Regions from separate parts of the Homo sapiens genome. Here region 2 is linked to region 1. The links come from fine-mapping of genetic effects on gene expression. Tissue or cell type: whole blood. Region 1 holds a variant in brackets; the other region holds the start of a gene. All regions are shown on one strand. Distances are between the middles of the regions.

The links. PIP is the estimated chance that this variant, and not a neighbour inherited with it, causes the effect.
Region 2: it holds the start of ZNF132, and the variant in region 1 is fine-mapped to the expression of ZNF132 in whole blood (TOPMed, PIP 0.96).

The regions. Positions count from the first base shown.
Region 1 is chr19:58,410,440-58,418,541 of GRCh38, reverse strand. It overlaps ZNF584 (zinc finger protein 584), which reads right to left. Exons shown (of 4, transcript NM_173548.3): 3 at 2,896-3,018; 4 at 215-1,731. The coding sequence ends at 758. It also overlaps a transcript of ZNF324B not described here. Among named protein-coding and RNA genes, the nearest start is that of ZNF584, 5.8 kb to the right of the region's middle. The variant A/G (reference allele first, on the strand shown) is at 3,425.
Region 2 is chr19:58,436,890-58,444,991 of GRCh38, reverse strand. It overlaps ZNF132 (zinc finger protein 132), which reads left to right and starts at 4,839. Exons shown (of 3, transcript NM_003433.4): 1 at 4,839-5,233; 2 at 7,777-7,945. The coding sequence starts at 5,171. It overlaps ZNF132-DT (ZNF132 divergent transcript), which reads right to left and starts at 4,544. Exons shown (of 1, transcript NR_186311.1): 1 at 491-4,544. It also overlaps a transcript of ZNF324B not described here and the pseudogene LOC100419848. RefSeq lists enhancers at 3,642-4,151, 4,301-4,430, 4,663-5,173.

The DNA.
Region 1 (8,102 bases):
GCTTGGGCAATATAGCAAGACCCTGTCCACAAATGAAAAAAAAAAATTAGCCAGGTGTGATGGCGCACACCTGTAGTGCCAGCTACTCAGGAGGCTGAAGCAGGAAGATCCCTTGAGACCAGCAGTTCAAGGCTGTGGTGAGCTATGATGGCACCACTGCATTCCAGCCTGGGCAACAGAATAAGACCATCTCAAAAAAAAAATAAAAAAAAAATTTTAAGCGGCTTAAACAATAAAGCCTTTATTACCACATAGTCCAGAGCAGTATGAGACAGTCCATGCTAGGGCATGACAAATACCATGTGTAATGTCAACCATTTCCATGAAAATGGTAAACCTTCCCAGGAAGCCCCCAGCAGATACCAGCTCAGCTCCTCCGGCCAGAGGTGGGTCATGTCCACAGCTAAACCAGTCAAGGGTAGGGAATGAGGCCTGTTTTGGGCTCCACTATTAACGATTCTCTACTGTTTAGAGCAAGGAGCACAAGGTCTGCTGTCCCACTTGCTGTAGGGACCTTATGGGGTGGATAGAGGTGGATGGCGGTGGATAAACTCAGTGATGTGACACTGCCAACAGCCCCAGGCAAGTCAGAGTGCAATGTGGCTCCCGAAAGCGTCCCACACACCAGGCACACACGGGAACTCTCCCTGGGGTGGGTGTTGGGATGTGCAAGGTTTAGCTTCTTTCGGATGGCACTCTCACGGCCACTCTCCTTAACCTCCTTTCTGGAATAAGACCTTTCCTGATGAACACGGTGCTAGCAGCTAACGACCTTCCCATGTGCCCTGTCCTCCTGACGCCTTTCTGGAGTATGGACTTTCTTGTGCTGAAGGAGGGTGGAACTATGTTTGAAGGCCTTCCCACACTCTGTACATTCATAAGACCTCTCTTCAGTGTGGAACTGCTGGTGCCGATTGCGGTAGGATCTGGTAGTGAAGGTTTTCCCACACAGGCTACATTCATAGGGCCGTTCCCCAGTGTGGACTTTCCAGTGCTGATAGAGGCCTGAACGGGTCACGTAGCCTTTCCCACATTGCTTGCATTCAAAAGGCCTTTCTCCAGTGTGAACTCTCTGGTGAAGAATGAAGCTATTATTGTATTTAAAGAACTTCCCACATTCTGTACACTCATAGGGCCTTTCTCCAATGTGCACTTTCCGGTGCCGAATGAGGGTAGACAGAACACTGAAGGTTTTACCACATTTGCTGCACTCGTAAGGCCTTTCTCCAGTGTGAATCCTCTGGTGTAGAACAAGTGCGTCTTTGCGGTTGAAGGTTTTACCACAGTCACTACACTTAAAAGGTTTTATGCCTGTGTGAACCTTCTGGTGTTTCCTCAGCTTAGACGGGTAACTGAAGGCCTTCCCACATTCATTACACACATGGGCTGTTTCTCCAGTGTGAATTTTTCGGGGGTTAATATGAGCTGACTTCTTGAAAGCACTTCTGCCTGTTGGGCATCTGAAGGGTCTCTCTTCAGAATGCGTTATCAGATGGTCAAGGAGGGCAAAGGCCTTTAAGAACACCTTCCCACAGTCACTGCATTTGAACAGCTTCTCTGCCACATGGACTTCTTGCTGTTGCCCACAACTGGAACCAGGTGGGAAAGCTGCCCCATGCTCAGTGTGCCTTCTTGGTTTCCCCTCACTATGAGTGTCCTGGTGCTGGATGACTCTGTAGCTCTTTAGATGCTCAGGATGGGCTCTCTCATCCTCCACTCTACACAAACCATCTGAAAGCAGAGATGAATCATTACTAAGAGTTGAACTAGAGGGAGGAGGTACCTTAATCACCAGTGCATGTCAGACACACCCAGAAGGACTCCATAGAACTGCTGAAAGGGCCAGGCGTGGTGGCTCACGCCTGTAATCCCAGTGCTTTGGGAGGCCAAGGCGGGCAGATCACGTGAGGTCAGGAGTTCGAGACCAGCCTGACCAACACGACGAAACCCCATCTCTTCTAAAAATACAAAATTAGCCGGGTGTGGTGATGCATGCCTGTAATCCCAGCTACTCGGGAGGCTGAGGCAGGAGGATCACTTGAATCCAGAGGCAGAGGCTGCAGTGAGCTGAGATCGCGCCACTGCACTCCAGCCTGGGCAGTAAGAGCAAAACTCCGACTCAAAAAAAAAAAAAAAAATTAGCCAGGCATGGTGGCAGGCGCCTGTAGTCCCAGCTACTCAAGAGGCTGAGGCAGGAGAATGGCATGAACCCAGGAGGCAGAGGTTGCAGTGAGCTGAGATTGCGCCACTGCACTCCAGCCTGGGCAATAAGAGCAAAACTCCATCTTAAAAAAAAAAGAATTGCTGAGAGGTTGCTAGGAAAGGTCTGGGTTGGGAAAGCCTGGCACAACTGAATATGGCTCCACCAGACTACAGACTAAGGAAAACCTCAACTGAGATGAGGGCACAAGATAGGATATGGTGCAGGGAAGAGAGGTGGGGTCTCCAAGTCACTCCTCTGCAAAGGGTTTCAGCAGGGCCTTGGCTGCTGGTGACAGCCAAGCACTATGAGGAGGCATGTGTCTAGTCCCAGCAAAATGTGATTCCAAAATAGTAGCTGGTGTTTAAGTATTAATTAAGGATTGGCTGAAGTTCAAATACCTGTTTAAGGATATGTGCACATTTCAAGACACGCACTGAGTCGCCAACAGTAGACAGCTCTGCACAGATACAGAGAAGGGCAATGAGGAGACGCAGGCCAGAGAGGCAGGAACATGCGGGGCCTGAAAATCATGGTAGAGATGGCAGACTGCACAGTGTCCACATAAGACAGGAAAGGTGGAAGGAAATAAGGTATGGTCACTGCCCTCAACACCAAGGTATCGGTGTATGCAGGTACTCAGCATTCTGTGAGCCCACTGCTGAAACCAAGGTATTCCCCTCCACTCCACTTACCAAGACCAAAACCTCTCCTGGCTTCTGCTCTGCTGACTGGAGTCACATCCACCCAGCTGGGCACCCACGACTGTTCATCATCCTCCAGCTGGGTAAACACAGGGGATCTCGAAGGTGCAAGTCCTGCGGGTGACAGGTAGTAAAAGAAACAGGCTGGGCATGGTGGCTGATGCCTGTAATCCCAGCACTTTGGAAAGTGAGGTAGGAGATCACTTAAACCCAGACGTTCGCAACCAGCCTGGGCAACACAGTAAGACCCCAACTCTACAAAAAATATATTATTTTAATTAGCCAGGCATGATGGCATGCACCACCTGTAGTCCCAGTTACTAGGGAGGCCATAGTGAGAGGATCACTTGAGCCTAGGAGGTCAAAGCGTCAGTGAGTCACGATCACACCATTGGACTCTAGCCTGGGCAACAGAGTGAGACCCTGTCTCAAAAACAAACAAACAGGCCGGGCGCAGTGGCTCACGCCTGTAATCCCAGCACTTTGGGAGGCCAAGGTGGGCGGATCACGAGGTCAGGAG[A/G]TCAAGACTATCCTGGCTAACACGGTGAAACCCCCCTTCTACTAAAAATACAAAAAAATCAGGCGGATGTGGTGACGGGCACCTGTAGTCCCAGCTACTCGGGAGGCTTAGGCAGGAGAATGGCATGAACCTGGGAGGCAGAGCTTGCAGTGAGCTGAGATCACACCACTGCACTCCAGCCTGGGCGACAGTGCGAGACTCTGTCTCAAAAACACAAACAAACAAACAAAAAGAAAAAAAAAAGCCTTTCTATGAAGCAAAACTGACATAACTGAAGAAACAGACTGTTCAGCAATAATAACGATTGTAATTTCCCACCATCAATAACAACAGCAGACTTGAACAACAATGAAAACCAACTAGTCCTAACAGACATCTATAGAGCTTGCCACCTAACAACAGCAGGATATACATTGTCACGTGCACATGGAACGGTCTTCAGAACATACCATTTGCTAGGATATAAAATAAGCCTCGGCTGGGCGCGGTGGCTCATGCCTGTAATCCCAGCACTTTGGGAGGCCGAGACGGGCAGATCATGAGGTCAGGAGATCAAGACCATCCTGGCTAACACAGTGAAACCCCATCTCTACTAAAAATACAAAAAAAAAATTACCCGGGCATGGTGGCAGGCGCCTGTAGTCCCAGCTACTCAGGAGGCTGAGGCAGGAGAATGGCGTGAACCCAGGAGGCAGAGCTTGCAGTGAGCTGAGATCGCGCCACTGCACTCCAGCCTGGGCGACAGAGCAAGACTCTGTCTCAAAATAAATAAATAAATAAATAAAGCAAGCCTCAGTAGATTTCAAAGGATTGAAATAATGTCAAGTATGTTCTCTGTCCACAAATGAATTAAAACAGAAATCAACAACAGAAAGAAATTTAGGAAACTCACAAATTTAAGGAATTTAAACAAAACATTCCTAAAAATCCAGAGTCAAAGAAAAAATAAATCACATGACAATTACAAGTACTTTGGGAGGAATGAAAATAAAAACACAGGGCTGGGTGTGGTGGCTCAAGTGTAATCCCAGCACTTTGGGAGGCCGAGGCAGGTGGATCACAAGGTCAGGAGTTTGAGACCATCCTGCCGAACACAGTGAAGCCCCGTCTCTACTAAAAATACAAAAAAAAATTAGCCAGGCGTGGTGGTGGGCGCCTGTAATCCCAGATACTCGGGAGGCTGAGGCAGGAGAATGGCATGAATCCAGGAGGCGGAGCTTGCAGTGAGCCGAGATAGTGCCACTGCACTCCAGCCTGGGTGACAGAGCAAGACTCCATCTCAAAAAAAGAAAAAAAGAAAAGAAAAGAAAAATACAACAGGCCGGGTGGTGGCTCACGCCTGTAATCCCAGCACTTTGGTAGGCTGAGGTGGGTGGATCACCTGTGGTCTGGAGTTCAAGACCAGCCTGGCCAACATGGCGAAACCCTGTCTCTACCAAAAAAAAAAAATACAAAAATTAGCCAGGTGTGGTGGACCATGCCACTCGGGAGGCTGAGGCAGGAGAATCGCTTGAACTTGGGGGGCGGAGGTTGCAGTGAGCCAAGATCGCACCACTGCACTCCAGCCTGGGAGGCATCAGACTCCACCTCAAAAAAAAAAAAAAATTAGCCAGGCATGGTGGCACATGCCTGTAATCCCAGCGACTTGGGAGGCTGAGGCAGCAGAATTGCTTGAACCCAGGAGGTGGAGATTGCATTGAGCCGAGATCGCACCATTGCATTCCAGCGTGGGCAACAGGACTCCATCTCAAAAAGAAAAATTAAAAAAAAAGAAAAAGAAAAAGAAAAAAATACCACAACAAACAAAAAATTATGGGATGCAGAAAATGCAGAGCTTAGCAGGAACATTATGGCTATAAATACCCATATTTTAAAAGATCTCAAACCAATAACCTAACTTTATACCTCAAGGAACAAGAAAAAGAAAAACAAACCCAAAGATAGCAAAAGGAGGGAAATAATAAAAATTAGAGCAGAAACGAATGAAACAGATTAGAAAAAGAGAACCGACAAACCAAAATTTGGTTCTTTGAAAAAATCAACAAAATTGGCAAATGTTTACCTAGAGTGACAAAAAACAGAGAGAAGACTCAATACTACTTTGAACAGGAATGGAAAAAGGACATCACTAGTAACCTTATAAAAATTAAAAAATAATGAAATACTATGTACAAATGTATGCCAACAAATTGGATAACTTAGATGAAATGGACAAATTCCCAAGTAGACACAAACTATCAAAACTGAGTCAAGAAGAAACAGAAAATCTAAATACAAATGTAACAAAGAGGGTTTTCTTGTTGTTATTAAAAAACATTCCCCCCAAAACACACACAACCCCAAGCCCTGATGGCTTCAAAGGTGAATACTAACAATACTGAAATAAGAATTAACACCAATACTTAAGAAACTCTTCCAGAAAACAGAAGAGAAGGAAACATTCCCAACTCATCCATTGAGGCCAAAATTACCCTCATACTCAATACAGAGACATTATAAGAAAACTACACCACTGGCTGGGTGTGGTGGCTCACACCTGTAATCTCAGCACTTTGGAGGCCGAGATGGGTGGATCACCTGAGGTCGGGAGTTCAAGACCACCCTGGCCAGGCCGGGCGTGGTGGCTCACGCCTGTAATCCCAGCACTTTGGGAGGCCGAGGCGAGTGGATCATGAGGTCAGGAGATTGAGACCATCCTGGCTAACAAGGTGAAACCCCGTCTCTACTAAAAATACAAAAAATTAGCCGGGCGCGGTGGCGGGCGCCTGTAGTCCCAGCTACTCGGGAGGCTGAGGCAGGAGAATGGCGTGAACCCGGGAAGCGGAGCTTGCAGTGAGTCGAGATTGCGCCACTGCAGTCCGCAGTCCGGCCTGGGCGACAGAGCGAGACTCCGTCTCAAAAAAAAAAAAAAAAAAAAAGACCACCCTGGCCAACATGGTGAAACCCCTGTCTCTACTAAAAATAAAAAAATTAGCCAGGCATAGTGGTGCATGCCTGTAACCCAGCTACTCAGGAGGCGGGGGCAGGAGAATCACTTGAACCCAAGAGGTGGAGGTTGCAATGAGCCGAGATCATGCCACTGAACTCCAGCCTGGGCGACAGAGTAAGACTCTGTCTAAAAAAAAAAAAAAAAAAAAAAACAAGTATTATAAGCCATGACAGGGAATTTATCCCAGTAATGCAAGGTTGAACATATGAAAATCAACAATTAGTGTTGGGAGGCCGACGGGGGCAGATCACGAGGTCAAGAGATCAAGACCATCCTTGCAAACATGGTGAAACCCCATCTCTACGAAAAATACAAAAATTAGCTGGGCGTGGTGGTGCACGCCTATAGTCCCAGCTACTTGGGAGGCTGAGGCAGGAAAATCACTTGAACCCGGGAGGTGGAGGTTGCAGTGAGCCGAGATCGCGCCACTGCACTCCAGCCTGGCGACAGAACAAGACTCCGTCTCAAAAAAAGAAAAGGCAATCAATTATTCTAATATACTACATTAACAGAAGAGAGGACAAAAATCACATGATCATTTCATTAGACATTGGAAAAGCATTTGACAAAATCTAGTGACCTTTCTTTTCTTTTTTTTTTTTGAGACGTAGTTTCACTCTTGTTGCCCAGGCTGGAGTGCAATGGTGCGATCTCAGCTCACTGCAACCTCCACCTCCCAGGTTCAAGCGATTCTCCTGCCTCAGCTTCCCTAGTAGCTGGGATTACAGGCATGTGCCACCACACCTGGCTAGTTTTCTATTTTTAGTAGAGATGGGGTTTCACCATGTTGACCACGCTGGTCTTGAACTCCTGACCTCAGGTAATCCACCTGCCTCGCCCTCCCAAAATGCTGAAATTACAGGCATGAGCCACTGCACCTGGCCATGACTTTTCTTAATAAACACATTAAATGAACTAGAAAGAGAAGGGAACTTCCTCACCTGAAATGGGCATCTGCAAAAAACCAACAGCTAACACCATACTTAACAGTGAAGAATAAAGTACTTAGGAATAAATTTAACGAAAGAAGTACCTTTGTGGCCAGGCGCAGTGGCTCACGCCTGTAATCCCAGCACTTTGAGAGGCCAAGGCAGGCAGATCATGAGGTCCGGAGTTCAAGACCAGCCTGGCCAACAAAGTGAAACCCTGTCTCTACTAAAAATACAAAAATTAGCCAGGCATGGTGGCGCGAGCCTGTAGTCCCAGCTACTCGGGAGACTGAGGCAGGAGAATCGCTTGAACCCTGGAGGCAGAGGTTGTGGTGAGCCGAGATTGCGCCACTGCACTCCAGCCTGGGCAACAGAGTGAGGCTCTGTCTCAAAAAAAAAAAAAAAAAAAAAAAAAAAAAAATTATATATATATATACATATATATATATATATACACACATATATATATATACATATATATATACACATATATACATATATATATACATATATACATATATATACACATATATACATATATACACATATATACACATATATATACACATATATACACATATATACACATATATATACATATATATACATATATATACATATATATACATATATATATACACATATATATATATATATATATATATATATATATATATATATTTCCCAAACCGTTCTGATTAAAATTCATGGCTCAAGCCTGGCCCAGGGAGGTCCCTGTAAAATTTCTTTTGTAGGGAGG
Region 2 (8,102 bases), 26 kb before region 1:
GAGGAGAGTTTTGCAAAATTTTGCTCATGGCTGGACCACACTCCTTGCGCTTATGGGGACTTTCTCTGGGGTGAACATATTGGTGCTCAAAGGAGGTAGAGTTCTGGCTGGAGGATTCCCCATGTTACTATACTTGTAAGGGCCTTTGAAGATGTGCATGTACTCCTGCTTTCTCAGGATGAAGACAAAAGTGAAGGCCTTCCCATGCTCATAATACACTTGCAATTTTTTCCACTGTGAAGTTTTTTGGTAGGAGAAAAGGCTTGCTTCCCCTCAAACACCTTTCCATATGCTGTGTATTTATCAGCTATCTCTTCAGTGTCAGTTCTCTGTAGGTTCTGCAAAATGTGGAGCTGCAGGGCCCTAGTGTCTGGTGACAGGTCAGTACCATGCAGTGAGCGAAGTCCAGGTCTTGAACCATTGACACCTATGCCCATACTCCTCAAATGGAACAAGCCAGTCTCACGGAAGAAGAGGTTTTCAAAAACTATTTAGGTATCTATGTATTTATTTATTTATTTTAGAGATAGGATCTCGTTATGTTGCCCAAGCTGGACTCAAACTCCTGGTCTCAAGCGCTCCTCCTGCCTCAGCATCCCAAGTAGTTGGGACTGTAGTTATGAGCCACCATGTGCAGATAACAACTATTTAAAGATACATTATCCGTTCAAGACACATTAAAGGGAGGCCAATGGTAGAAGACCTGGCCACTGGAGGGGAGGACGGGAGAAGGGGAAAGAGTGAATCTTGGAAGACAGAGAGGAAGCCATCCAGGGAACAGGAGTCAGGGCAAAGTAGGATAGAGTGTCAGAAGAAGGTCAGGAAAATTTTTTTTAAAAGGCACAGCTATACATCCTGGTGCCAGGACAACAGAGGGCACAACTCAGGTACCAGGTGAGCCACCAGGGCACTGCCAACAGCTCTGCCACAGCTGTCTTCCACTCAACAGAACTGGTGCACCATGGGGCCTCTCTGTCCATGGCCTAATTCAAGCCACCCTGTCCACCAGCCAGGTCTCTTCATTTGTTCTAGTTAGGTGATCACATGGCGGGGGTGGTGGCAGTGATCCTATACAGCTCTCATCAAGTGGTTTGTGAGAAGGCAGCCCACGTCAAGGTGATCCACCCCATGACAAATCACCGTAGGTGAAGATCACCTATGCAGGTATATAGCTGGAAAGAACTGAACTTCACAAAGTCAATGCTCAGTGACCCCACAATCAATGACCATGTCAGTGCCCACTGGGACTCACAAGGGACAGCTGGCAGAAAACTCCTACTAGAGTGAGGGAATGTGGCAGAAAGGACAGAAAAGTCACAGATCCTGACAGGGTAACCTAGCCAGGAAACGACCCAGCTGCATGTGATATGCTACACAGGTTTTGAGACTTCCGATTCCAGGTGGGCATTGAGGGGTGAGATTTCCGGCACCGCCATGATGGTCCTCATTTTGTGGCTTGTGGGTTGGGCTACAGGAGGCCTCTAGAGCTGGACAAGGGCGTGGGAGTGGGTGCAGGGACCATCACTGTGGCTTCACAAGGTTGTCAAGATCCCAGGGAAGGTGTGGGGGTTGTTTATGCAGCAGCCAGGGATAAGTAGCAGTGAAAAGTGAAGCCGGCTGGGCTTCTGGGTCCAGTGGGGACTTGGGGAACTTTTCTGTCCGGCTAAAGGACTGCCAACACACCAATCAGCGCTCTGTGTCTAGCTAAAGGTTTGTAAACGCACCAATCAGCACTCTGTAAAAATGCACCAATCAGCGCTCTGTGTCTCCCTAAAGGTTAGTAAACGCACCAATCAGCGCTCTGTGTCTAGCTAATTGGCTGGGGACTTGGAAAACTTTTCTGTCTAGCTAAAGGATTGTAAATGCACCAATCAGCACTCTGTGTCTAGCTATAGGTTTGTAAACTCACCAATCAGCACTCTGTAAAAATGGACCAATCAGTGCTCTGTAAAATGGACCAATCAGTGCTCTGTAAAATGGACCAATCAGTGCTCTGTATAATGGACCAATCAGCAGGATGTGGGCAGGGCCAAATAGAATAAAAGCTGGCCACCCAAGCCAGCAGCGGCAACCCGCGGGTCCTCTTCCATGCTGTAGAAGCTTTATTCTTTTGCTCTTCGCAATAAATCTTGCTGCTGCTCACTCTTTGGGTCCACACTACCTTTATGAGCTATAACACTCACCACAAAGGTCTGCAGCTTCACTCCTGAAGCCAGCGAGACCACAAACCCACTGGGAGGAACAAACAACATTGGACACGCCACCTTTACGAGCTGTAACACTCATTGCAAAGGTCTGCAGCTTCACTCCTGAGGTCAGCGAGACCACGAACCCACCAGGAGGAATGAACAACTCTGGATGTGCCACCTTTAAGAGCTGTAACACTCACTGCGAAGGTCTGCAGCTTCACTCCTGAAGTCAGCAAGACCACGAACCCACCAGAAGGAAAAAACTCCAGACACATCTGAACATCTGAAGGAACAAACTCCGGACACACCATCTTTAAGAACTGTAACAGGGCCGGGCGCGGTGGCTCACGCCTGTAATCCCAGCACTTTGGGAGGCCGAGGCGGGTGGATCATGAGGTCAGGAGATCGAGACCATCCTGGCTAACAAGGTGAAACCCCGTCTCTACTAAAAATACAAAAAAAAAAAATTAGCCGGGTGCGGTGGCGGGCGCCTGTAGTCCCAGCTGCTCGGGAGGCTGAGGCAGGAGAATGGCGTGAACCCGGGAAGCGGAGCTTGCAGTGAGCCGAGATTGCGCCACTGCAGTCCGCAGTCCGGCCTGGGCGACAGAGCGAGACTCCGTCTCAAAAAAAAAAAAAAAAAAGAACTGTAACACTCAACACGAGGGTCCGCGGCTTTATTCTTGAAGTCAGCGAGACCAAGAACCCAGAGGAAGGAAACAATTCCGGACACAGCAGGACACTGGCCAGTGCCAGGGCCAGCAGCACCTCCCAGAGGGAACAATGGAAAGGCGGAGGAAAACCTAGATTTCATGTGTAGGGGAAAGAGGAGACACAGTAGCCTTACCTAGTGGGCACTGGAGTACAAAGCTCTGTAGTATCATGTCACTGTAGAAGCCCCCTTGGACCTCACTAAGGAGCCCCACATTCTTGGAAGATGTACTGACCCTGTCCTCAAAGGTCATTAAGCCCTGCAACACCAAGCCAATGGGCAGACAGATGTGATCTAAGCACTGAGCGTGAGCCCTAGCCACTGGTCCTCCAACCTAAAACCCTCCTTCCCAAATCCTATCCTCAGGCCGTTCACTGGGCCAGGCCACCAACATAATGCAGTCTGGACGTCCTGAAGCCACACCAGAATTCTATATATCCAGAGGCCCATTTGACACCTCCACTCACAGGTCTCCAGACAATTCAGACTCTATACCTACAAAATCCATCGCTAATCTTCCATGAAACATCCTCCTCCTGCCAACTGCCAACCTCTATTCTCCACAGGAGGCATCCTAATTCTTCCTAACTACTTGGGATGGTCCTTCACCCCTACTCATGCTTATTCCACTTATCTAAGGTAGCAAAAAATTCCATTAGCTCTATCTTGAAGATCCACTGGGAATCTGATCACTTCTCCCATCCTTCTTGCTTCCGTTCTGGACAGGCCACTATCATAACTGTCTGGAACAATACTGCAATAACCTCCCCCACAGTCTCCCTGCTTCCAGCCCCACTACAACCACCTTCTCCAGTAGTGTGTTCATTCAGCAACCACTGAAATACTTTCCAAATTCTAACTCAGGTCATGTCCATCCCTTTTCTGTTCAACACCTTTCATGGCTCCCAGGCGCCCTCGGTGTGCCAGGAGAGGCAGGACTCCTCTTACGCTCTCCACTCGCTGCCAAGGGGGCATGAGAGCCTGCCTGAACGCTCAGGTCAGGGTCAAGTCCAAGTCTTCGCATATGCAGATCCCTCCTCCTGTACCCTCCACGTCTCAACAAACTGGATTCTGAAATGGTGACCCCCAACCTGTGAACGCTCCACACTGTTCAGTGGGGCCCGCAGAGGACCTGGGGCAGATACTTCTCAATCGGAGACTTAGGACAATGGTGCTGAGTCCAGCGGAGTGGGTGCCAGGAGACCTTTGGCGCACGTTCCATGCCTACAGCCGGGCGCACACTGGGTCAAGACCTCCCAATGCGTAGCTTTTCTTGGCCTCGGCCTCGCGCTCCCTAAAGCCAACATAACGCCAAGGGCGACGACTCCCGAGAGCCGCGGACACCTCCGCGCGGTGCAACCTGAGGGTCCCACTGGGCCGGCTTTATCTAAGGCACAGGGTGGGGAAGGGGGGTGCGGTGTTGTGGGGGGCGAACACTGGGCTCAGGGGCGATATTCGCCGCGGTGGGGGCGCTTGTATGTCAAGAAGGCGGAACTTCCCCGACTCTCGTGCCTTCCTCGCTCCTGTTTCCATGGGCCCAGGGAGCCTCCAAGATTCCGTCCCTCGCCTGACAACGCGGTCCCTTCAGAAGCAGACAAAATCGAGAAATGCCAAAGTGATGGTCCGAGGACGACGACGGAAGTCCCGCTGCCAGGCTGTGATTGGCCAGCGTCTTACACTCCGCCCGGAAGTGCCTGTCTCCTCGGCTGCCAATGGCCAGCCCTGAGGCACCGCGAGGGTCCTTCTGGATAATGTAGTTTGCGTTGCCTGAGCAGCGACGCAATAAACGCCATTCCTCAATCACCTTGGCAACGACCTAGCAGTAGCGTGACGGGCATAGGGAAATAGCGTCATAGACGGCGGGGATCCTTGAGCCAATGAAAGCTCGGACCAGTGGCAAGTCCGAGCTGTCATTGAGAGGCGGGACTTCCGGCGCCGCCATTGCGGTCCTCATTTTGCTGCTGGTGGGTTGGGCTACAGCAGGCCTCTGGAGCCACACCAGGGCACGGGAGTGGGTGCAGGGACCGTCACCGCGCCTTCACACGCACCATAGTGCCCGGCTAATTACTCTGCTTTTATGAGCCAAGGTGTTCCCGAAAGTGGAGCCAGCGCCACGCGTCTCCAGGGTCTCCATACCCAGCCTTCGTCCCTGCGGTGCCCAGAGGCCTTGCGCGCATTTTGCATTTGGGAAGACAGGTCCTGAGTGCGACCGTCACCCAGCGGAAGTGTGAGGGTTCGGCCCAGCGGCAGGGCTAGCCCTGGGCCTCCTGTTATGGCCCTGCCCAGCCCACAGGTTCTAATGGGGTTGCCAGCGTTGCTGATGGGCCCGGCGCAGGTAAGTGGAGTGTGCCCCAGGCCCTCACCCGCTGGGATTCCGGCCCTCAGGATCCTGAAGCCCAGATAGAGGGGATGTTGGTGTCCTGGGACTCTTGATCGTGTCCTGTCCTCACACGTGGGTCCTGGGCCCTGCCCTGGGAGTCACTTACCCTTACCATCCTGAATCCAGGCAAGGGGTTATATCGAGGGATTCCCATTTCTGGAATCCTGTGGAATGAGATCTGGAAGGCTGTCCCAGGGACAGTGACCAGCATGTGTACCTTGTTTAGTGGTGATGAAATGGAAGCATTCTGGGGACTGCCGGTCTCCATTTAGTCTGGTGGAAACAGGGAAGGGAAACCAATAGTTAGGCCTGGAATGGCAGCCTGAGGAGCTGGACCTCTATTCTGATGGTGGTGGGAGCCATGGAAGGTTTGGAGTAGAGGAAGTAGGTGCTCTGACTCCAGTCTTAACAGACGCCCTATGGATGCCTAGTGGGCAGCAGACTGGAGGGATGGTGATGGTGGAGCAGGAAGGCCAGTGAGGAGCTGACAGATGTGGTCCAGATGTGTGCTTTGGGTAGCTGGACAGAGGGGTGCCCGTGGAGGTAGGACAGATGGTTGGCTTCTGAATCTGCCCAAACTGGGCCATGGATTACCTGATGTGGGACAGTGAAAGAAAGTGAAATGTTAAGATTGACCTAAGGCTGAGTGCAGTGGCTCACACTTGTAATCCCAGCACTTTGGGAGGCCAAGGCGGCCAGATCACTTGAGGTCAGGAGTTCAAGACCAGCCTGGCCAACGTGGCGAAACCCCACCTCTACTAAAAATACAGAAAAATTAGCCAGGACATGGTAGTGTGCACCTGTAATCCCAGCAACTTGGGAAACTGAGGCAGAAGAACTGTTTGAATCTGGGAGATGGAGGTTGCATTGAGCTGAGATCGTGCCACTGCGCTCCAGCCTGAGTGACAGAGCGAGACTCTGTCTTAAAAAAAAAAAAAAATTGCCGGGCGTGGTGGCTCACGCCTGTAATCCCAGCACTTTGGGAGGCCGAGGCAGGTGGATCACTAGGTCAGGAGATTGAGACCATCCTGGCTAACACGGTGAAACCCCATCTCTACTAAAAATACAAAAAATTAGTCAGGCGTGGTGGTGGGTGCCTGTAGTCCCAGCTACTCGGGAGGCTGAGGCAGGAGAATGGCTTGAACCCGGGAGGCGGAGCTTGCAGTGAGCCAAGATCGCGCCACTGCACTCCAACCTGGGTGACAGAGCGAGACTCTGTCTCAAAAAAAAAAAAAAAAAAATTGACCTTAGATCTTTCAGATGTGGAAGTTGGTGTGAGGAGTAGATTTCAGGGGGAAGATAAAGAGTTGGATTTTGGCCATGTTGTATTTGAGATGTCCCAGACACTACCAAATTGAGGTGCCAAGTAGACCACTAAACATGTGATTATGAAATTATGTCGGGTTTAGGCTGGAAACATCCAAGGGATGGATGCTTGTGTGTGGACACTGCATGCAGTTGTGGGTTGGGTTCAAGATAGTGGCTGAGCCTCCTGAGCAGAGAGTAGGTCTAGGACAACAGTGAAGCATAGCGGCAAAAGTAGGATGAGAGTTGGGCTTTGGTTTAGGTTGATTTGCTTCTCTACAGCTCACTACATTGTTGCGGCCATCCTTCTTGTGGTCAGGGCATGTTATCTCTTCTTAAATAGGGTCCTGGGGTTTTTGTCAGGCTGGTGGAGTGGCAAGATCAGAAAGGGTCAGCCTAAGCTGAGTCCCCAAGCCAAGGTGGGGGCCAGTGGATCTTGGATTTGAGTGTTAGGAAGAGCAAGGACAGCTATGACTGGGGAGGAGACAACACATACAAAGGCAAAGATATCAGAGGGAAGAGATATTTGAGATCTGCTTATGGTTCTGGGCAGCTGATGGTTGAAGGAACAGGGCTGGCAGGGGAGGCATTGACTTGAGGGGCTATGACTGCCTCTTGCAGTGGGGTTTTTGGAGCTCTGTAGCTGGCTTGGACCAGGAATGGATCCCGGTTGCATCTGTCAGGTATGCCATGTGCATGGTGAGATGCTAGGGAGAATGCCTACAGTGTGAACAGGGAGGGGTTGGAAATATAAGAACTGTATGGTCTGAGGAGTGACATGTAAAGGTGAGAGAATGTGAACCATTGGGCCCATGGCCCTGGTACAAGAGGCTTAAGAAAGGGAAGCCCAAATTTTCTTATGTTTGGGAGGTATGAGCCAGAAGACACAAGGAAAATTGGCCAGCAGGAGGGAGGAGGAAGCATCCATCTGCCCACCTGCCTATTGTTCCTCTAGGTTGGGTTGGCCTGGATACAGTGACCAGTGGGACTACTAGGAGAGAGGGGCACCATTAATTCCAGGGCATGTTAGGTGGGGGCCCTGAGGAAGAAGATAAGCTGTGGATGGGTGAGTAGTGGGTGGACTGAGAGGATCATAAGAAAAAGAGATATTAGTGGTAGATGTATCAGGATTCTGAGTCACACAGCAAGGTCCTGCATATTTCCATTTGACCAATTGTTTGTTTCTTTGTCAGCATACTTCTTGGCCCTGTGGCTCAGCTGTCCCCACATTGAAGAGCATGGTAACCTTTGAAGATGTGGCTGTATACTTCTCCCAAGAGGAGTGGGAGCTCCTTGATGCAGCCCAGAGGCACCTGTACCACAGTGTGATGCTGGAAAACCTTGAGCTTGTGACCTCACTTGGTAATGCCCTGTCTCAGCATGGTGATGACTACCTTATGCCTTGTGTCTTTTCCCCATAGAAAGCTCTGTTCATCCCAAAGCCAGATCATGGGTACTGCTTCCTTCTCGGGTTTCCTGTTGTAGGTGCTGGGGTGCTGAGGTTCTGCTGTGTGTACTT